Linked DNA regions of Homo sapiens. The protein of the gene in region 1 purifies or fractionates together with the protein of each later gene. This does not show direct contact. Each region holds a gene or a part of one and is shown in the gene's direction. Other genes may lie near its edges. The genes, in order: NLRP12, TTC1, NUDCD3 and MLF1.

Evidence for each region.
Region 2: the proteins of NLRP12 (region 1) and TTC1 purify together in Homo sapiens (affinity purification with a luminescence readout; one large-scale study listed by IntAct). This does not show direct contact.
Region 3: the proteins of NLRP12 (region 1) and NUDCD3 purify together in Homo sapiens (affinity purification with a luminescence readout; one large-scale study listed by IntAct). This does not show direct contact.
Region 4: the proteins of NLRP12 (region 1) and MLF1 purify together in Homo sapiens (affinity purification with a luminescence readout; one large-scale study listed by IntAct). This does not show direct contact.

Annotation. Positions count from the first base shown.
Region 1 is NC_000019.10:53,802,871-53,808,287, reverse strand, and holds part of NLRP12 (NACHT, LRR and PYD domains-containing protein 12), read left to right. Parts: intron 1-619; coding exon of another isoform or gene 620-622; coding exon 623-793; intron 794-2,837; coding exon 2,838-3,008; intron 3,009-4,165; coding exon 4,166-4,336; intron 4,337-5,417. UniProt on the Homo sapiens protein: Plays an essential role as an potent mitigator of inflammation. Primarily expressed in dendritic cells and macrophages, inhibits both canonical and non-canonical NF-kappa-B and ERK activation pathways.
Region 2 is NC_000005.10:160,050,555-160,055,971, forward strand, and holds part of TTC1 (tetratricopeptide repeat protein 1), read left to right. Parts: intron 1-574; coding exon 575-629; intron 630-5,417.
Region 3 is NC_000007.14:44,392,761-44,398,177, reverse strand, and holds part of NUDCD3 (nudC domain-containing protein 3), read left to right. Parts: intron 1-5,417.
Region 4 is NC_000003.12:158,597,794-158,603,210, forward strand, and holds part of MLF1 (myeloid leukemia factor 1), read left to right. Parts: intron 1-286; coding exon 287-415; intron 416-2,220; coding exon 2,221-2,380; intron 2,381-5,013; coding exon 5,014-5,146; intron 5,147-5,417. UniProt on the Homo sapiens protein: Involved in lineage commitment of primary hemopoietic progenitors by restricting erythroid formation and enhancing myeloid formation.

The DNA of each region.
Region 1 (5,417 bases):
GATAGAGCCAGGTGCAGCCTGGACAACATGATGAGATCCCCATCTCTAAAAATATAAAATAAATTAGCTGGTCATGATGGTGCACACCTGTAGCCCCAGCTTCTCAGTAGGCTGAGGTGGGAGGATTGCTTAAGCCTGGGAGGTCAAGCCTACAGTGAGCCATGATCTCACCATGCACTCCAGCCTAGACAACAGGGCAAGGCCCTCTAAAAAAAAAAATGAAAAGATAGCATGCTTTGGCCGGATGTGGTGGCTCACGCCTGTAATCCCAGCACTTCAGGAGGTTGAGGCGGGCAGATCACCTGAGGTCAGGAGTACGAGATCAGCCTGGCCAACACGGTGAAACCCCATCTCTACTAAAAATACAAAATTAACTGGGCGTGGTGGCTCATGCCTGTAATCCCAGCTACTCTGGAGGCTGAGGCAGGAGAATCGCTTGAACCCAGGAGGCGGAGGTTGTGGTGAGCTGAGATTGCGCCATTGCACTCCAGCCTGGGCAACAAGAGCGAAACTCCGTCTCAAAAAAGGATAGCATGCTTCATAAACGGTGAAATGACATGCAAAGGCCATAGTTGTCAAGCACCAGTAACACCAGAGAGTGGCCTGTCTTTCCTTCAAGCAGACCAGAGAGGACCGTTCTGCTGGACGCCTACAGTGAACATCTGGCAGCGGCCCTGTGCACCAATCCAAACCTGATAGAGCTGTCTCTGTACCGAAATGCCCTGGGCAGCCGGGGGGTGAAGCTGCTCTGTCAAGGACTCAGACACCCCAACTGCAAACTTCAGAACCTGAGGTGAGTGCAGGCTGGTCTGGGCGTTTCAGGTGGTCCCCACCGTGGCCTCTCATGGGGATCAGTCACAAAGGTTCTATCACGGGATGGTGTATTCGTTGGCTACGGCTGCCATAAAAAAGTGTCACAAAGCCAGGTGCCGTGGCTCACGTCTGTAATCCCAGTATGTTGACAGGTGAAGGCGGGCAGATCACTTGAGGTCAGGAGTTTGAGACCAGCCTGGCCAACATGGCAAAATGCCATCTCTACAAAAAATACAAAAATCAGGAGGGTGTGGTGGCGGGCGCCTGTAATCCCAGCTGCTTGGGAGGCTGAGGCAGGAGAATCGCTTGAACCTGGGAGGCGGAGGTTGCAGTGAGCCGGGATTGTGCCACTGCACTCCAGCCTGGGTGATACGGTGAGACTCCATCTCAGGGGGGAAAAAAGTGCCAAAGACTGGGTGGCTTCACCACATAAATCTATTTTCTCAAGGCAGGTGGGGGGCTGCTGGAAGTCCAAGACAAGGAGTGGGCAGGTTAAGTTCTTCTGAGGCCTCTGTCCTGGGCCTGCAGATCACTGCCTTCTGTCTTCACATGGTCATCCTGCTGTGTGGGTCTCCAAATTTTTTTCTTTTTTTTACTTTTTTTTTTTTTAAATTTTTGAGACACTGATATGCTCTGTCACCCAGGCTGGAGTGCAGTGGCACAATCATGGCTCACTGCAGCCCCAAACTCCTGGACTCAAGCGATCCTCTTGCTCCAGCATCACGAGTAGCTGGGAAAACAAGCATGTGCAACCACACCCGGCTAATTTCTTTTTTTTTTTTTTTTTTTTTTTTTGAGACGGAGTCTTGCTTTGTCACCAGGCTGGAGTGCAGTAGCGTGATCTCGGCTCACTGCAACCTCTGCCTCCTGGGTTCAAGCGATTCTCCTGCCTCGGCCTCCTGAGTAGCTGGGACTACAGGCAGGTGCCACCATGCCCAGCTAATTTTTTGTATTTTTAGTAGAGACGGGGTTTCACCATATTAGCCAGGATGGTCTCAATCTCTAACCTCGTGATCCACCCACCTCGGCCTCCCAAAGTGCTGGGATTACAGACTGAGCCACCGTGCCCAGCCACACCAGGCTAATTTTTGTATGTTTTGGAGAGATGGGGTTTCACCATGCTGCCCATACTGGTCTCAAACTTCTGGCCTCAAGTGATCCTCCTTCCTCAGCCTCCCTAACTGTTGAGATTACAGGTGTGAGCCACTGTGCCTAGCCAAATTTTTTTCATATGTTATTTTTTGAGATAGTATTGCTCTGTAGCCTGGGCTGGAGTGCAGTGACATGATCTCGACTCACTGCAACCTCCGCCTCCTGAGTTCAAGCAATTCTCCTGCCTCAGCCTCCTGATTAGCTGGGATTACAGGGGTGCATCACCACACCCAGCTAATTTTTGTGTTTATAGTAGAAATGGGGTTTCACTGTGTTGGCCAGGCTGGTCATAAACTCCTGACCTCAGGTGATCCACCCACCTCGGCCTCCCAAAGTGCTGAGATTACAGGCTTGAGCCACCGCACATGGCCTTGAATTTCTTTAAGGGCAACCTTTGTGAATGTATTTGACTACAAAGCATCAAAACATTTTATATTGTTCTTGTTGCTTTTCTTGACAGGTAAAATTTATCATATATAACATGATATTTTGAAATAAATATATTGGCCAGGTATGATGGCTCACGCCTGTAATTCCAGCACTTTGGGAGGCCCAGATGGGGAGGATCACTTGACCCAGGAGTTCAAGACCAGCCTGGCCAACATGGTGAAACCCCATCTCTACTAAAAATACCAAAATGAGCCAGGCATGGTGGCACACGTCTGTAAGCCCAGCTACTCAGGAGGCCAAGGCAGGAGGATTGCTTCAACCCAGGAGGCAGAGGTTGTGGTAAGCCAAAATCATGCCACTGCTCTCCAGCCTGGGTGACAGAGCGACTCTGTCTCAGAAAAAAAAAAAAAAGCAAAAGAAAATAATCCACAAAACTGGAGCAAAAGAAATGACCAGCTCCTTTCTCCTCTTTTCCACCCCAGGCTGAAGAGGTGCCGCATCTCCAGCTCAGCCTGCGAGGACCTCTCTGCAGCTCTCATAGCCAATAAGAATTTGACAAGGATGGATCTCAGTGGCAACGGCGTTGGATTCCCAGGCATGATGCTGCTTTGCGAGGGCCTGCGGCATCCCCAGTGCAGGCTGCAGATGATTCAGTGAGTCTCTATCCCCGGGAGCAACTTCTTAAGCTCATTGTCTCCTGGGGCATGAAATATCACAAAATGCTGGTAATCCCCAAATCTCCACCTTTAAATCAGGGCTGGCCCTTAACCCCATGACCTAAGACCCTGGCCCTGGACTCTAGGCACTTTGGAAGACCTGCTTCTGCCCTCCTCTGACTCCACACTCAATTCTACATGATGAAGAGTCCCTGGGGCCATCCCCCACCTCTTCTTTTTTTCTCCCGAGACGGGGTCTTGCTATGTTGCCCAAGTTGGGGTGCAGTGGCACAATCTCGGCTCACTGCAACCCCCACTTCCTGCGTTCAAGTGATTCTCCTGCCTCAGGCTCCCAAGTAGCTGGGATTACAGGCACCCACCACCACACCCAGCTAACTTTTTTGTATTTTTAGTAGAGATGGGGTTTCCTCACGTTGGCCAGGCTGGTCTTGAACTCCTGACCTCAAATGATCCACCCACCTTGGCCTCCCAAAGTGCTGGAATTACAGGTGTGAGCCACTGCACTCGACCTACAAAAATTTTTTTTTTTTAATTAGCCAGGTATGGGCCAGGAGCGGTGGTTCACGTCTATAATCCCAGCACTTTGGGAGGCCAAGGCAGGCGGATCACCTGAGGTCAGGAGTTCGAGACCAGCCTGGCCAACACGGAGAAACACCCCGTCTCTACTAAAAATGCAAAACTTAGCTGGGCGTGGTGGCACACACCTGTAGCCCAGCCTGTAGTCCCAGCTACTCGAGACTGAGGTATGAAAATCACTTGAACCCAGGAGGTGGAGGTTGCGGTGAGGCAAGATCACGCCACTGTACTCCAGCCTGGGTGACAGAATGAGGTTCTACCTCAAAAAAAAAAAAAAACAAAAAAACCCAAAAAAAACAAAAAACAAACAAACAAAAAAAATTAGGCAGGTGTGGTGGTGCACACATGTATTCCCAGTTACTCAGGAGGCTGAGGCAGGAGGATCACGGGAGCCTGGAGGTCGAGGCTTCAGCGAGTTGATATCACTCCACTGAACTTCACCCTGGGTGACAGAGCAACAACCTGTTCCTAAATAATAAAATAACAGGCTGGAGCATGAGTGATCACGACATAGAAAAGCAAGATGGCGTCCCCTTCAACCTCTCCTTCCTCCCAAGGTTGAGGAAGTGTCAGCTGGAGTCCGGGGCTTGTCAGGAGATGGCTTCTGTGCTCGGCACCAACCCACATCTGGTTGAGTTGGACCTGACAGGAAATGCACTGGAGGATTTGGGCCTGAGGTTACTATGCCAGGGACTGAGGCACCCAGTCTGCAGACTACGGACTTTGTGGTGAGTTCTTCCTGGGGTCAACTATAATAAAATGGCAAATCTCTTCATATTGAATGATGGTATAAAAATGCATCCACAGGTCGGGCGCAGTGGCTCACGCCTGTAATCCCGGCACTTTGGGAGGCCAAAGAGGGCAGATCATCTGAGGTCAGGAGTTCGAGACCAGCCTGGCCAACACGGTGAAACCCCCTCTCTACTAAAGATACAAAAATTAGCTGGATGTGGTGGCACACGCCTGTAATCACAGCTACTCAGGGGGCTGAGGCAGGAGGATCACTTGAACCTGAGAGGCGGAAGTTGCAGTGAGCTGAGATCACGTCACTGCACTCCAGCCACGGTGACAGAGTGAGACTCCATCTCAAAAAACAAAGTAGAATAGTGGCTGCCAAGGCCTAGAACAGGAAGAAATGGGGAGTTACCGTTTAACGGGAGCAGAGGTTCCATTTCGGAAGATGAAAAAGTTCCAGAGATGGGCCGGGTGCGGTAGTTCACGCCTGTAATCCCAGCACTTTGGGAGGCCGAGGTGGGCAGATCACCTGAGGTCTGGAGTTCGAGACCAGCCTGACCAACATGGAGAAGCCCCGTCTCTACTAAAATACAAAATTAGCCAGGCGTGGTGGCACATGCCTATAATCCCAACTACTCGGGAGGCTGAGGCAGGAGAATCACTTGAACTTGGGAGGCGGAGGTTGTGGTGAGCCAACACTGTGTCATTGCACTCCAGCCTGGACAACAAAAACGAAACTCCGTCTCAAAAAAAAAAAAAGTTCCAGAGATGGATAGCAGTGATGATTTCCCAGTAGCGTGAAACTACTTCATGCCACTGAGCCACAGTCAGCCCTCTGTGTCCACGGGTTCTGCATTCGTGAATTTCATCAACCATGGATCAAAAATATTCAGAAGGGCAGGGCGCGGTGGCTCACAGCTGTAATCACAACCCTCTGGAAGGCCAAGGCAGGAGAATGGCTTGAGTGCAGGAGCTCAAGAGCAGCCTGGGAACCAGTGAGACTTCATCTCTACAAAAAATAAACATAATTAGCTGGGGTGGGTGGTATGTGTCTGGAGTCCCAGCTATTCAGGA
Region 2 (5,417 bases), on another chromosome or scaffold:
TGTTAAATTTGTATTGATGCCCTCCTTTAGTGTAGACTTTCTATTAAGAACTGGAAACAGAGCCAAACAAAACTTTTTTTTTTTTTTTTTTTTGAGAAAGGGTCTCTGACTCCCAGGCTGGAGAGCAGTGGCACAGTCATGGCATACTGCACCCTCAACCTCCCAGATTCAAGCAACCCTCCCACCTCAGCCTCCTGAGTAGCTGCGACTACAGACACATGCCAACACACCCAGCTAATTTTTGTATTTCTTGTAGAGACAGCATTTTGCCATGTTGCCCAAGGTGGTCTCAAACTCCTGAGCTCAAGCGATCCTCCCAACTCGGCCTCCAAAAGTGCTGGGAATATGGGCAGGAGTCACTGCACCTGGCCCAAACAGAACTTTTGTCTTTATGTAGCGCACCACAAACATAAATACTTGGGGTTTTTTTTTTTTATTTAATAGGATCATAGACATACTTAACTTGATCTTATTTCCACATTAGGATTCTTGTGTTTCTCAAATTCAAAATAAAGGGAAAGGTTTTGGTTTTTTTTTTTTTTTTACCAACCCTTGTTTCTCCTCTTTTCCTCAGAGATTACCTAAGCAAATTGAAGAACGTAATGAAAGACTAAAAGAAGAGATGTTAGGTAAGCTTACTTCTTACTTTGCTTGATCATAAACAGCTAGGAACCTAGGGTGGGGACATAGCGAATACTAGAGGAGAACACATGAGTTAGAAAGTTTCGGACTCTACCACAAGGCTACTGACTTCTGAGTTATTTTGACCCCAGAAGGGGCAGCGTGGCTTAGAGAGGGTATTGGCTTTTTTTGGAAACCAGATTTCCTTTTTGATTTTCTTGGAAATTTTTCTTGCCTGCAAGAATTTAAGCATAATTCAGTTCCCTGGGATTATGCTTAAATGGGATTTAAAATCCTAGGATACCACCAACCTCGATTTCAGATAACAATTACATAAAAACAGTTTAGTTTCTTCATTGAATAATCATTCCTTGAGGTTCATTAGGATGCAGTCAAGATCATGAGAATTTTTATTTAGAAAATGGCACTCAAAGTCCCTTTAGTGTTTGAGAACACACGAGAGGGCAGGAATTAGGAGTAAAGAGAAATCAGACTGGGGGTAGGGGTAGGGCAAATGGATTCATTTGATCCATGTTTAGTTATTTCTCATATTTGCCAAAGCATTTTAGAGTTGGAACCTCCCACGAGCAATCTGCTTAAGTAAGAGGAGTGAGGGTTCCTGAACACAGACTTAAGTCTTTTCCACATGTAACCTGTCTGATATTTCGCTGGTGAAGATCTGCCATGTATTTTCCTTTTTGAGTATTTTCTAAATCTGTTGTTTGAATTACATTTTATAAACTGCAATCATGTGGCCCTAAAGGAAAAATCATTTAAAATAAATTGAGCCTGTCTGGCATTTATGGCCTTCAGACATCAGCATCCAGACAATGGGAACAAATTTCCCAAAGGATCATTCTGATAGCCAAGTTGATTGAGAGGAGGCCATTAACCTAGACTATCCAGAGACTTTGGCCCCTGCCGGGTAGACTCAGACTGTAAAGACGGCTGCTTCCGATTCAGGATAGCTCTGGAGCCTTCCCCAGATTTTCCAAAAAAGGGAGGGGGATGGGGGAGCTTTTCCCCTAATTTACATATTTAATTAAACTTGGCCAGGCACGGTGGCTCCTGTAATCCCAGCACTTTAGGAGGCCAAGGTAGGAGGATTGCTTGAGCCCAGGAGTTCAAGGCCAGCCTAGGCAACATGGTGAAACCCCATCTCCACAAAAAATTAGTCAGGCATGGTGGCATGTGCCTGCCCATAGTCCCAGCTACATGGGAGGATCACTTGAGCCCAAGGGTTAGAGGCTGCAGTGAGCTATGATGGTGCCACCACACTCCAGACTGGGCAACAGAGCATGACCCTGTCTCAAAGAAGAGGGAAAAGAGCATTTTCTCACCTATTTTTACTAACAATGATGCTCTATTTTAGCAAAAAAAAAAAAAAAAAAAAAAAAAACTGTTTGCATTTAGTATTTGAATTTCTTGCTAAAAAAGATGACCTTGTGAATGGCCATAGTGGATCTGGAAGGCATTGGTCTCTTAGTCCATTTTTTTAAAGCCAGTCCAGTAAAGGGACTGGTGCAAACTGAATCTTACTGCCTATTGTTAGTTCCAGATGGAATTAAAACTTCCATTTGTCCTTGTCTTTATAAATTCTAATGCACCAGAATTTTCTGTCTCCAAGGCTTTGGGTTTTTCTTATGTCATTCTCTTCATTTGAAAAAATTCAAATTGAATTCATTCCCTCGGTTGCTTCTAAAATGAATTCACCTGCCATTAGACTTAACCAACTTAAGTTGCTTTGTAAATAATATGTGTTGTTACACATGTGTAGTTTGAATGGCTAGATTCCTTTTTTCCCTTAATGAGTATAAAAATCATGAATAAGATACTGCTCTAGGTGTTACCCCACAATAGATAACCTAGAAGAGAGAAATCACTCTTTACATGGAATTTCAGCCCCCACAAGAGCTTTTCTGGTATTCCTTCCTCCTTGTTGCTGATGAGGTAACTTTGGTTCATGTTCTGTGAGATTCCCTAGAGGCTAGACATTCTGAATGCAAATTAATATCACTTAGAAGTTCTGAGCAAGCTTTTCACAGTGGACTGCATCATCTTTATGCTAGTTCCTGTTAAAATGATGGCTTCTATGGAGAATAAGCAGTTAAAAATTTTTTAAATTGGGTAGTGTGGGCTGGGTGTGGTGGCTCACACCTGTAATCCCAGCAATTTGGGAGGCTGAGCCCGAGTTCAAGACCAGCCTGGGCAACATGGCAAAATCCTGTCACTAAAAAAATTAGCCAGGTGTGCTGGTGTGCACCTGTAGTCCCAGCTACTTAGGAGGCTGCTGTGGGAGGATCACTTGAGCCCAGGAGATCGAGACTTCAGTGAGCCACAATGATGCCACTGCACTCAAGCCTGGGTGACAGAGTGAGACCTTGTCTTTAAAAAAAAAGAAAATTATAAAATCAGGTAGTGTGATGCCTATGCCTGTAGCTTTTGTTCTTTTTATTCAGGATCACTTTAGCTTTCAGAGTCTTTTGTGGTTCCATACAAATTTTAGGATTTTTCTATTTCTGTGAAGAATGTCATTGGTGTTTTGACAGGGATTACATTGAATCTGTGGATCACCTTGAGTAGTACAAAATGGGTTTTTATTTAGATGTGTTCAGTATTCTTTAACTTGTTTTTTCTTCCATCTCTGTAATTTCCTTTTCATTAGAAAGAAGAGCTATGTACTCCTTGAGGGAAAAAATCCTGATAGGAATTATTAGTGGGTAGAACAATTATTTGCTTTGCCCTTTCTAGCCCATCATTTATAATCTTTAGAACAAGAGACCCAGGGTGGCCATTAGTCCTAGTGGCACAGTCCTTGCTGATCACAGAAGATGATCGTGATAGCATCAAGACGATCACTTGAGGAAAGTGGTCAGCAGCTGGAGTGGGGGTTGGTTGTTTTTGTTTGTTTGTTTGTTTGTTTGGTCCTTTTCTCTGGGATAATTAGCCTCCCAGCCATAATAACCAAGGAATGTAAGGTTTAAAAGGACTTAAGGGTATGTGTGGTTGATAGTGTGATGAGATGGAAATAGAGACCCTGGACATAGCATCCCAGGAGGCTCAGAGCATTTTTGAGGAGCTAGTCATTGATGCTTTATTTGCTTTCTCTCTAATGGAATGATTTCACAGTTTTCTTAAATAGCTGGGAAAAAAGTTGGCTGGGTACAGTAGCTCATGCCTGTAATCCTAACATTTTGGGAGGCCAAGGTGGGAGGATTGCTTGAGCCCAGCAGTTCGAGACCAGCCTGGGCAACATGGCAAGACCCCCATCTCTGCAAAATCTTTAAAAATTAGCCAGGCGTGGTAGCACAAGACTGTGGTCCCAGCTACTTGGGAGGCTGAGGTGGATTGCCTTAGTCCAGGAGGTCAAGTTTGCAGTGTTACGATGGTACCAGCCTGGGCAACAGAGCCAAGACCCTGTCTCAAAAACAAAAAAAGAAAGAAAAAAGAAAAGAAAAATCTCATGTGAAACCACAATATAGAAAAAAAAAAAGTAGCGTTTTATATAAATTCAAATGTACGGTATAGCATTTATAATCAGAATAATCAGGTTAGTTTGAGGAACATAAAGATTTGAAGTCAGGTTTCATATGGCAGACACGGCCTTTATGAGTATATCTAAGCCTTTATGGGTATATTTCATTGTTTCAATTTTACAGTAGTAAATTTTTGCTCACATAGGTAAATAGGAAAAAAAACATTTAAAAGTAAAACTGACGAGACACTTTCAGCTACCCTGAAGCTCCTCTGCTCAACTGTAAGATACTTAGGACAAACTCCCAGGGTTACTGCTCTGCCCTCAGGAGTCCCTTGAGAAGTGTGGCTGTGTCACCTTATGGGAGGAGTGCCTTCCTGGGGGTTGGTTCTTTGCACATGAGTCATTATTTATGGCAGCCATGCTGGGAGGGCAAGAGGTTTGTACTGGGATGATGATACAGGTCTCCAAACAAGCTTTGATTCCAGATAGAAAAGAATATAGGGTAAAGACATCTGTCATCATTTGCAAGTTATTTTATCCCGTATGCTGGCCCAGCCAAGAAGTCTTTCAAGCAAGTGAAATTGTCAATAAAATCTGTATGTATATATTTTTGGTTCTTCCTTGATCTGTCATCTCAGCTTATTGAACTATAAGGTAGCAGATAGAGTCATCTACTTTCTCCAAAAAGTAACCTAGGCTGCATGGGCTACTTTTCACATTGTCTAACGGGGAAGCCCTACCCAGGCAGCTTTAGCCCTCTAATCACTAGAGATGGGTGTTTACAATTCATTTTTTAATATAAGCTCTCTCATCAAGATTCTAATCACCAGTTGCAAAGCAAGTTAACCTTTTGGAGCTGCATCTCAGATATGGTGCCCAGAACATCAGCACCTGAGAACCTGCCAAAACCATGCCAAAAGGCATGATATCAGGCCCTACCCCAGACCTACTGAATCAGAGATTTAAGATGGAGCTCAGCAATCTAAGTTTTAACCTCTCAAGTGTTTCTGATGCACACTCAACTTTAATGACCCTGATGAGTTGAGAGACGGAGTATAGAGGCAGCTCAGGTGAGGGGTTAGAGGCCAGAGGAGGGCATGGCTAAGAGGGGCGTTCAGCTCTGCTCTGAGAGACACCTCCTGAGCAAAAGCAGCCATGGCACTGAGTTTTATCTTTTCTTCTTTGTGTTGTAGCTGCAGCAGAGAAAAACTAGAAAGCAAATATTTCAGAATGTGTGGTCTTCCAATTCACTAGAGTTCAGATCTCAGCTCTCTATTTGGACAAGTTGCCACTGGAGGAATAGAGTCAGTTACATTAC
Region 3 (5,417 bases), on another chromosome or scaffold:
GCCTTCGTGGGACAGATGGGACCGGCAGATGCTATGCGGGGCAGGGTGGAGCAGGGATGCAGGGGTTCTGGAGAGGAGAGTTTGCAAGTCAATAACTACAGTGGAGAAGTCAGACCTCCCTTTGGCCAGGTAACCTGAGTGAACACCCCACCCACTGAGGGCTGTGGATGTTGTGTGCCTGCAGGTGGAACACATGTGTGTCCAGCTGGGTGTGCACACATGAGTTAATCAGGAGATGTCAGGGGAGGAAAAAGGCTGTGGAAATGTCCTAGATTAAAGAGGACAGGACCCCCAAGATGCAGGAAGGACTCTGGACTGGACCCTGTTCCGTAAATCATCATAAGTTATTTCCTTGTCCTTAGGAAATAACTCAGGACAAAGGGCCAAGATGAATGCAACCTATTCTTAAATGATTCAGAGAAAATACTATGTTATTATATATTATACATACAGCATACATATAGAGTGAGAGAGCTGTGTACAGACACACAGCTGCTAAACACTTGTATGGGTGTCTTTGTACTTATTCTAGTAACTTTAAGCTTAAAATTCTTTACAAATAAAATGTTAAAAAAAATGAGAAGGCTAATAAGCACATGAGAAGCTTAACGTCATGATTCATTAGGGGAATGCAAGGCAAAACCATGATGAGATGCCCCTAGACACCTCTTAGAAGAGCTGCTAAGAAGGCAGACAGCACCAAGCGCTAAATGAGATGGGGCACCTGGTGCTCTTCTGTGCTACTGGTAGGGGTGCAGCAGAGTGGTCAGTCTGGACAGTAGCTGACATCACGTGACCCAACACACGCATTCCTGGCTACTTACCAAGGAGAATAGAAAGCAGGCAGATCTCTACAGCAGCTCTCTACCTGATTGCAAAACAATGGAAATGCCCACATGTCCACAAACAAGTGTGTGGTCTGCCTGTGCCATGAAGCACAGTGTGGCTGAGCGTCAAGAGTCCCCACACTCAAAGGAGGCAGCAGATACAGGGCTGCACACTGTGTGATTCCACACATGTGACATTCTGGACACGGACATGCTGGATGGCAAAACGAGCATCGGGCTGAGAGGACTGCTGAGAAGGGGAACGGGGCTGCTGGGATGTGGGTTGATTGTAGCAGTAGCTCATGGAGATGTGACCTCAAAAGAGTGATTTTTACTATGTGCATACTATACCTCCACAAACTTGACTTTAAAAAAATAAAATATTCACAGAAAAAAACAAAAACAAATGTAAAACCATCAGACTACTTTATCAGAGGTGTTATTTTTAGATAGAGGTCTTTGAACTCCATCCTAGGAACATTGTACCCATGTCCTCCCAGAACTGCATCTTGCACTGGGTGTCGGAAGACAGCCCTGCAAGACCTGTATGCTCTGTACCATTCAGTGGTTTTTAAGGTTAACTACCAGAAGTCATATCTGAGGCCTCCCAGAAGCATTACTCTAAGGAAAGTAGTTAAATGTGGACAGTGACAGCAGAAACATTTACACATTAAACCAGTTTATAGAACATGAGAATGTTCAGAGCATAAAGAAGCTTGTCAGCTCAATGACTTACGAGGCGTGGGCCATTAAAAAAAAAGGTCTGGAGTTTGGGAAGGAGAAAGGAATGGGGATCTGCAGCTCAGAGTGAGAGATGGAATTCTGTAAAGGAACAGTGTGGAGAGGGACTCCAGGCAAGTCAATAACGATGTTAGAATGCCCTTGTTTAGAATAATTATCATGCTAATAATATTGTTCATATTGTTTTTACTAATATGCTCATCCTTAAAAATAGAAGATATTCTAAGGGTACTAAATAAATAAATAATTAAAATTTTGCAACTGAGACCTTCCTCTTCCAGAGCCTTTACAAGAACCTTTATAGACAACACCTCAGGTCCTGTTTGCTGCCCCAGCATGGAGGGCAGCCCACTTGGTTACAGTGATGACAGATGGAAACTTGACTGGAGCAGGTCTGGAAGGCAGAGGAGGCAGGCCTGTGTGTATATGGTCAGGACAAAGGACCAGTGGTGCTAGCCACACCTGTGGGATGGCTGTAATTAAACACACACACACACACACACACACACACACACACACACAACAGAAGATAACAAGTGTTGGTGAGGGTATGGAGAAACTGGAGCCATTGTATGCCGCTGGTGGGAAGGTAAAGTGGTGCAGCTGCTTTCGAAAATAGTATGGTAGTTCCTCAAAAAGTTAACTGTAGAATTACCATATGACCCAGCACTTCTGGGTAAATATACAGAAGAATTGAAAACAGGGACTCAAACAGATGTATGTACATCAATGTTCATAGCAGCATTATTCACAACAGCCAAAAAGTGGGGGCACCTGAAATGTCCATCAGTTGATGAAACAAAATGTGGTTTATCCATACAGTGGAATATTATTCAACCTTAAAAAGGAATGGAGTTCTGATTCATGCTACAACATAGATGAACATTGAGGAGGACATTATGCCAAGTGAAATAAGCCAGACAAAAACAAACAGATAACTGTATTATTCCATTTGTGTGAAATGTCCAGAACCGGCAAATCTGTAGAGGCAGAATCATTAGTAGTTGCCAGTGGCTTGGTGGGGTTGAGGGAACAATTTAGAGGAAGGGTTAGAGCAAATGGGGAGTGACTGATAATTGGCACAGGGCTTCTTTGTGAGGTAATGAAAGTGTTTTGAAACTAGATAAAGGTGATGGTTGTGCACCATTGTGGATATACTACATGCCATTGGTTCACTTTTGAATGGTAAGTTTTGTGTTAAGTGGATTTTGCCTCCATTAGAAATTGTTCAATATAAAGTCGGCTCACATCTCCTCATAAAATACCACACTGATGCACATGCGTGACGTCTGTGAGTGAGGATGGCCCCCTTGGAGAGCTGCACTGCCCAGCACAGTAGCTGCTAGCCACATGTGGCAGCTGAGTAAACACTTGACAGGTGGCTCACGTGACTGGAGAACTGAATTATTTTATTTTAATTAACTTAAATTTAAAACCTACTTGATTTAGTTACTGGAAAACCTTGAATATTTTTGAAACAACTTGGGCATGTGAATATACCCTTTCAATTGTAAATATTATGAAATCTGAACACAGATGAAGTATTTCTGATGAAAAAGTGCAGTGCTCATCTTAATTTTTGTTGGGTTCAAGTGTACTTCTGTGTCCAAAGTACACTTGTGGACACAGAAGATTTGGGGATGTTCCCCTCCTTCCTGTTGGGCAGGTGGCTCATTGTCTTCAGGTCCATCTCCCACTGTGCCCAGGAGCCCTCCACTCTGGGTGTGTGTTTGGACCTGGCCAGTGAAACCCTGTGTTGGGGTCTGTGGAGTGCCAAAAGGCCTGAGAGCACCAGCACCGTCCCCTGGATGGTATGTAGGCCGACCCCCTGCCCACATGGTGCTGATGGTGGGCTGTCAGCCCCAGTGTAGCTCTGCTTTGCCTCTTCATGCTGGGCAATCTGGAAAAGGCCCTTACTTCCAAGGGTTTGTCCTCATTTTTAAATACAAAAAATGGTATGTATGGTAAATGGTAATGGTATGTGTTTTACAGGACTTGTGAACGCTAATAAAATAAGTTACATGGATCACAGTAATAACTACTGGTGAAGATAAAAAATTCGTAAAGGATCTCTTCTTTCCAGAGATTTACAGTTCTGTGAGTTCCTCTGAAGTCTTCCCTGGAATAGAGAAAACAATGCATTTCCCTCTTGGAAGGTTTTCATTGCATCAGCTTGGTAAAGACGAGGTAGAGTTTGTAGTGTTGGGGTCTCTGAGGGTGAGTCAGGTCCCCGTCACACAAACTGTAAAGTCAACGACAAACCAGCTTAGCAGAGTATCTGGAAATGGAAGATTCATCCCAAATTTAAATTGCACACTGGCAGAGCAGCGTCATTTACTGGGTAGAGCTGGCGTGTAGGGGAGCCACCCACTCCCCCTGTTCACCACTCCCCCTATCTGCATTCGGAATGTCAGACAAGATTTCTGGGATGCTGGCTTCAGATCATGATTGCAGGTTTTTGTCTTGCTCTTCCCAGTTCTGGAAAATCTCCACTGTGTGCTCTCCCGCACCACATCGGTGCCCACCCTCTTCATTAGTAGAACACATTCTCGGACTTGATCCCTGGGCTCTGCAGAGTCTGGTGCTGAGTACCTTCTTTGGTGTGGGTAGGTTTTGGCAGCAGGAGCTTGGAGGTGGGAAGGTGGAAGGTGCAGTGTTAGGACACTGCTCTCTCAAGCCCGTGTATACTGGTGAGTCTCCAGTGCTCCCTCTTGGGGGGACGTGGTGTCCTGTGGACTCACTGTGACCTCTTGAGTGTCACAGTTACCCTGAGTGTGGCTTGGTAGGTTTTGCCCACCTGGTCAGTAAGTGTCCTGGTGGCTGCCACCTCCATGGATGAGAGCTGCTCTCACTTGCGGGCCCTTTGCTACCTTTTCTCCCTTTCTGTGAGCACCTAGTGGTTTAATCCCATCAGAGAGTCCCATCACACTTGGGCATGTGAATGTACCTCTTTCAATTGTAAATATTATGAAATCTAAACACAGATCAAGTATTTCTGTTGAAAAAGTGCAGTGCTCATCTAGGGCAAAGTAGACAAACCCACTCTGTTGCTTCTTGGCCACTCTGGTAAGAATTTTGAGCCCAGCCACTGACCACAGCAGATGCAGCCAGTTTTCTTGTTTTCTGTGTCTGTATGACCACTGATAACAGGGCATGGTGTGGCCAGGGCCCTCCTCTGTGTCCCTGGGACAGGCCAAGCAGCCAGGGTCACCTAGGTACATACAGCACCCCTCACGTTTGCTCTCATACTGCAGTTCCAGTTGTCTTTTAAGTTTTTATGGTAATGACATGAGTCTCACAGACCCCAACACTGAGGGCTGGATCTTAAATGCTGGGTGCTGCTTCCTTTGACCAAGGGATGTCTGTGCCATCCCCACAGAGGTGCCCAAGGAGGCCTCTTTTGGGGTTGTTTCTTGATGGTCGTTTCTCCTTCCCAAGCCATCAGAGAACTTTAGGGAATGGGGCTGGAGGACCCCCTCATGCAGCAAGCTTGGCCCCAGTGAGGAAGAAGTGGGGACAGGGCATGGTGCCCTGTCATGGGGTGAGGACTCCCCAGGAGATTCTGTCATGCATTAGGCTGAGCCCTAAGTCTCATAGGTCCCAGCTTACCCCTAAGATAGCAGAATGTTGGATGTTGCTCTTGGAAGCAAGAGAGATCACTGGAGAGGTAGTTGGTTGATAAGAGCTAAGCAGAGCCTTCCATGGCAAGCATGGGGGCAGGCTGGGTTGGCCCAGGACAGGTCCTGGTGTGGGGGGGTGTCATGGGTCTTGGAAAATAGCCTTTCTTCATGAGAGTGGGCAAGGTGTGCACATGGAACAGGCACTGTCCTGAGTATCCAGGACCTGCTG
Region 4 (5,417 bases), on another chromosome or scaffold:
ACTTAAGGATCTCTGAGTGAGTCACTTATTAGTCTTTGTAACGAGAGTGGGATAATTGTACCTAAAATGGACGACCGTTAGGACCCTCTAGGGGTGACTTTTTTTGGGCGGAGGTAATTTTTCAAGTCACTTCTCACTTGAGAACCTGGGTGTGCCTTTGACTACACCATATTGGTAGTTTAGTATCCTTAGTAGAACTTACAGCTAGTGTTGTTACTTATTTGAACTCTCTGGCAATAATTATTTATATTTGACTCGACTGAATTTACAATTTGTTTACCTGTAGGGTCAACTTTCAGTGGATCCAAATGGACATTCATTTTGTTCTTCCTCAGTTATGACTTATTCCAAAATAGGAGATGAACCGCCAAAGGTTTTTCAGGCCTCAACTCAAACTCGTCGAGCTCCAGGAGGAGTAAGTTTTCTATAAGCATTCCTAAAGTTTTATAAAGTTAGGGGATGATAGACTGTCTAGATCAAATTTTAACTATTAAAATTTAATCTGGTACAAGATGGTGGGGGGACAGGAGGGAGGTGTGGGGGTTGGGGGTAAGGTAGTCCTCACTGTGGAAACCATTAAAGCTCAACTGTATTTACTTAGTTTGTGGCATTTTTTTTGTAGCCCCCCCACCCCCCCGTGAGGGTGCCTTTTTTCATGTAAATATCTATGGATGTTTATTACCTTTACATGTTGACAAGGTAAACAAAACACGAAAAGAAGCCTTTGTTTCATGAAATTAATGTCTATTTTTAAGTTTACATTTGAAGTGAATTAATTTTTTAACTCATGAAATATTTCAAGTGTACAGAAAGGATATAGAGAATAACATAATAAGTGCCCATATTCCTGCCACCCAGTTTAGTCATATCATAACATTTTTCTCTATTTGCTTCAAGTTGTCTCTTGCTTTGTTTTCTTTTTAAGCGAAAATGTACAGAGGCAGTTAAACCTTCTAATACATTCCTCTGAGGTCTATTTTCCCTTTCTCCCCTTCTCAGAGATTACCATTTTCCTGTATCTGGAGTTTATCATTTTCACGCATGTTTTTACAATTTTATTACTTCACGTTTCTGTCATTAAAAAAATGGATTATTTTCCAGATTTCCCAACATTACATAAAGGGTATCATATTGCATATGTCCTCTGCAACTTGTCTTTGCTGAGTAATATGCTTCTGAGATTTATTCAGCTTGATACATGTGGCCCTGGTTTCTTTAACTTCTATGTAGTATCCAAAATATGAATATATTATGATTAATACGCTTCTGAGATTTATTCAAGTTGATACATGTGGCCCTGGTTTCTTTAACTTCTATGTAATATCCAAAATATGAATGTACCATGATTTTTAAATCATTTTCTGTCAATAGATATGTAGGTGAGTCTAATCTTTCACTAATTCATCTTTATACATGGCTCCTTATACAGAGTCTAGGAGTGGTATTGCTGAGTTGTAGGGTATGTGTACTTTCCTCTTTACCTAGCGTTTCCAAGCTACTATCCCAGTGATTGAAATTGTTGGCTTCCAAAACTGTGGCTTGTGAGTTTCCATTTCTCTACTTCCTTGTTAGTACTTATAGTAAAAATTTAGGTTTACCAATCTAATGAATGTGAAGTAGTACATTTTTTAGTTCTTACATATAAAGATGAACCTTTTAATGATGCTTTTGCCATAGTTCTGCTAATTAATCTCAGACATTTTAATTTTAACTTTCTAAAAGTGACAAACTTAAATGTAAACAGAATATAATTGTAGATGTCCCACAGTAAATCATGTTAGTTGCTATCAGAAATATTCTTATAATACTTCCATAGAGTTGATAGTCGGGAATCATGAGATTCAAGCCAATCAATATGACTGATGAATAATTAGTTGCCCTTATTTGTAGGAATCCCACCATAAACTTCCTTCTATTACATTATCTAAGACAGTCTTGAAGGCATTAAACTATAATTGCTACTTTTGTTTTAATATTTGATTACAATTTGGAAAAAGGTTAAATTGTATGGGTTCTGTTTGTTGTAGACATTTTCATTTTAAGGAGTTCAGGAAATATCAGAGACTTATTACCACAGTTTTACCACAAGTTAATAGTGGAACTGAGCACACATTATTTTTAGAGCAATAGATCTATGGCCATATCTCTGTAGGTAAGCTGGCCCTGAGATATACATTCTATATATATTTAAATAATAATAAAATTTCTTTATTTTTACAGATAAAGGAAACCAGGAAAGCAATGAGAGATTCTGACAGTGGACTAGAAAAAATGGCTATTGGTCATCATATCCATGACCGAGCTCATGTCATTAAAAAGTCAAAGAACAAGAAGACTGGAGATGAAGAGGTCAACCAGGAGTTCATCAATATGAATGAAAGTAAGTTATCACAAAAAAATAATATTCTTTCTTATAAATTTAAAATAACAGCCGTACTTGATGAATTTTTTTTTAGAAACATGTCATAAGATGTAGTTTTTGAATAATGCATGTAGAGAATACCTTGTGAAAGTAATAGGATTGTGTTTTCATCCTTTCATAGGAGAGCTCTTTTTTATAGTGATTTTTGGCAATATGGGATATTACTTATTTTTATTTTATCCTTGGAAAGTGGAATCTTTTGAATTGTTATTTAGTAATATCATTAGGCAAAATGTGTCTTTAAATATTTTTTCTGATTATCAAGAAAGTACATTTGAAAAGTATAAAGACAAAAATAATCCATAATCCAAACTCAAAATACTAGTAATATTTTAATGTATTTCTTCCTAATCATTTTATATATATAAACACTTTTTTCTCAAATTATTATTCTACTTTTATATAGTTTATATTGTGCTTATTTTAATTTACCATTATAATTGTAAAGTTACTTATGATGCTATTTTTCAAAAGCATTTTAAGTGGTTACCTTAAAGTTTTATTGTAAATAAGCCATAATTTTTACTTAAATCATTCTGTACTGTTCAGTAGTACTTAGGCTTTTGTATAGACAAGATTTTAATTTCTGTTATATGTTAGATTACATGTATGTCTCTCTCTCTCAAGTAAATCTTTTCTTTTTCTGGATTTTGTATTTATTCTTCAATGCATTTACATCCTTCTAGTGTCCTAACTCTTCTCCCTGTAGTTTTTAATTATATTACAATTTATTAACAAATTTAATCATTAAATTTAAATTATTTTTATTAATTTTTAAATCAATATTAAGCTTTTATATTTAATTGTATTAATTCAATAATGAAATTATATTAAAATTTAGTTGGATTCATCTCCTAGTTTCAGAAAGTATTTTGAATAATGTTTTTCCATAATAGAGTGTTTAAATTTTAAATTGTTGTATTAAAAAAGAAATTCTGGCCGGGCACGGTGGCTCATGCCTGTAATCCCAGCACTTTGAGAGGCCGAGGCAGGTAGATCATGGGGTCATAAGTTCGAGACCAGCCTGGCCAACATGGTGAAACCCCATCTCTACTAAAAATACAAAAATCAGGGCCCGGCACAGTGACTCACGCCTGTAATCCTGGCACTTTGGGAGGCCAAGGCGGGCAGATCACGAGGTCAGGAGTTCAAGACCAGCCTGACCAACATGGTGAAACCCCGTCTCTACTAAAAATACAAAAATTAGCCGGGCATGGTGGTGCACGTGCCTGTAATCCCAGCTACTCGTGGGGCTGAAGCAGGAGAATCGCTTGAACCCAGGAGGCGGAGGTTGCAGTGAGCCAAGATCGAGCCCTTGCACTCCAGCCTGGGCGACAGAGCGAGACTCTGTCTCAAAAAAATAAATAAATAAAATAAATAAAAATACAAAAATCAGCTGGGCATGGTGGCCCGCGCCTGTAATCCCAGCTACTTGGGAGGCTGAGACAGGAGAATCTCTTGAACCCGGAAGGCAGAGGTTGCAGTGAGCCAAGATCACGCATTGCACTCCAGCCTGGGCAAAAGAGCAAGACTGTGTTGGGTGGAGGGGAGGAAGAAATTCTATTAACATTGGGGTTTGATAAAATTATTCTTTTTTTTTTTTTTTTTTTTGAGACGGAGTCTCGCTCTGTTGTCCAGGCTGGAGTGCAGTGGTGCAGTGGTGTGATCTCGGCTCACTGCAAGCTCCGCCTCCCAGGTTCACGCCATTCTCCTGCCACAGCCTCCTGAGTAGCTGGGACTACAGGTGCCCGCCACCATGCCTGGCTAATTTTTTCTATTTTTAGTAGAGACGTGGTTTCACCATGTTAGCCAGGATGGTCTTGATCTCCTGACCTTGTGATCCGCCCACCTCAGCCTCCCAAAGTGCCGGGATTACAGGCGTGAGCCACCACACCTGGCTGGGGTTTGATAAAATTATTCTTATGCAGTAAGATAGAAGCCATGATATTGTGACCTGTGTTTATTTGTAACCTCTGTAATTTTATCACATTTATATATATACTGAGTATTTCACAATAATCAACATTTTGATGAAAAATTGAGTGAAGGAACATAATATTTTAAAGCAGTCTTAAGAAGTACTATCATGTCTCTATTGTTGCTATTATGGAAGTTAGATTACTTCATAACAACATGAATTGACATTCTAGCTGAGTAACCTGTCTTAGGAAATTGACAACAGAAACTTGTGAGGTCAAGTTACACAGAAAGATGGTTAGGTGAATAGAAGTGCTAGCCACAGAAGTATACACTATACAGGAAGAGTATATTCACTGTGAGATGACCCAGGAAGAAAAACTGTTAGTTAATATAATTAGGTCAGCTGGTCCATTGGGTAGAATAATATGTTATCCAGGCAGTTGAAAAAATAGATCATCAATAACTAGATCATCAGTAGGAATAGGAGAGGAACAGACAGGAAAACAAATACTACTTTTGTCAAAGACCCTTATATTTGAAGCAGCTTCCTGCCTCTGTATTGAGGTTACACTAATGAAAACACCAGACTAGACTGAAATATGTGGGAGCAAGGCAGTTACTGACAGTTGATACCTTAATACTTATTCCCATTATTTTTCTGTTTGACATAGGTGATGCTCATGCTTTTGATGAGGAGTGGCAAAGTGAGGTTTTGAAGTACAAACCAGGACGACACAATCTAGGAAACACTAGAATGAGAAGTGTTGGCCATGAGAATCCTGGCTCCCGAGAACTTAAAAGAAGGTAAAAGTTGTTTCTAAAATAGTTTGGTTTTTTAAGAAGAATTTGAAGTAAAGTTATGTAATTTACTTCTGTTATCAGAAAGTTTTGATGATCATCCAAATTGTATCCACAGTATCTTTTGTGAAAGATGTAATAATTTTATATGAAAGCTGATTATTCCACACAAATTTAAATTTATATCTAAAAATCAATAATAGTTTAGGATTTTATGGTTAGTAATTCACTAGTAAACTATGCCTCAGAAGACAGAGACCAAAATCCTCTTAAGGAA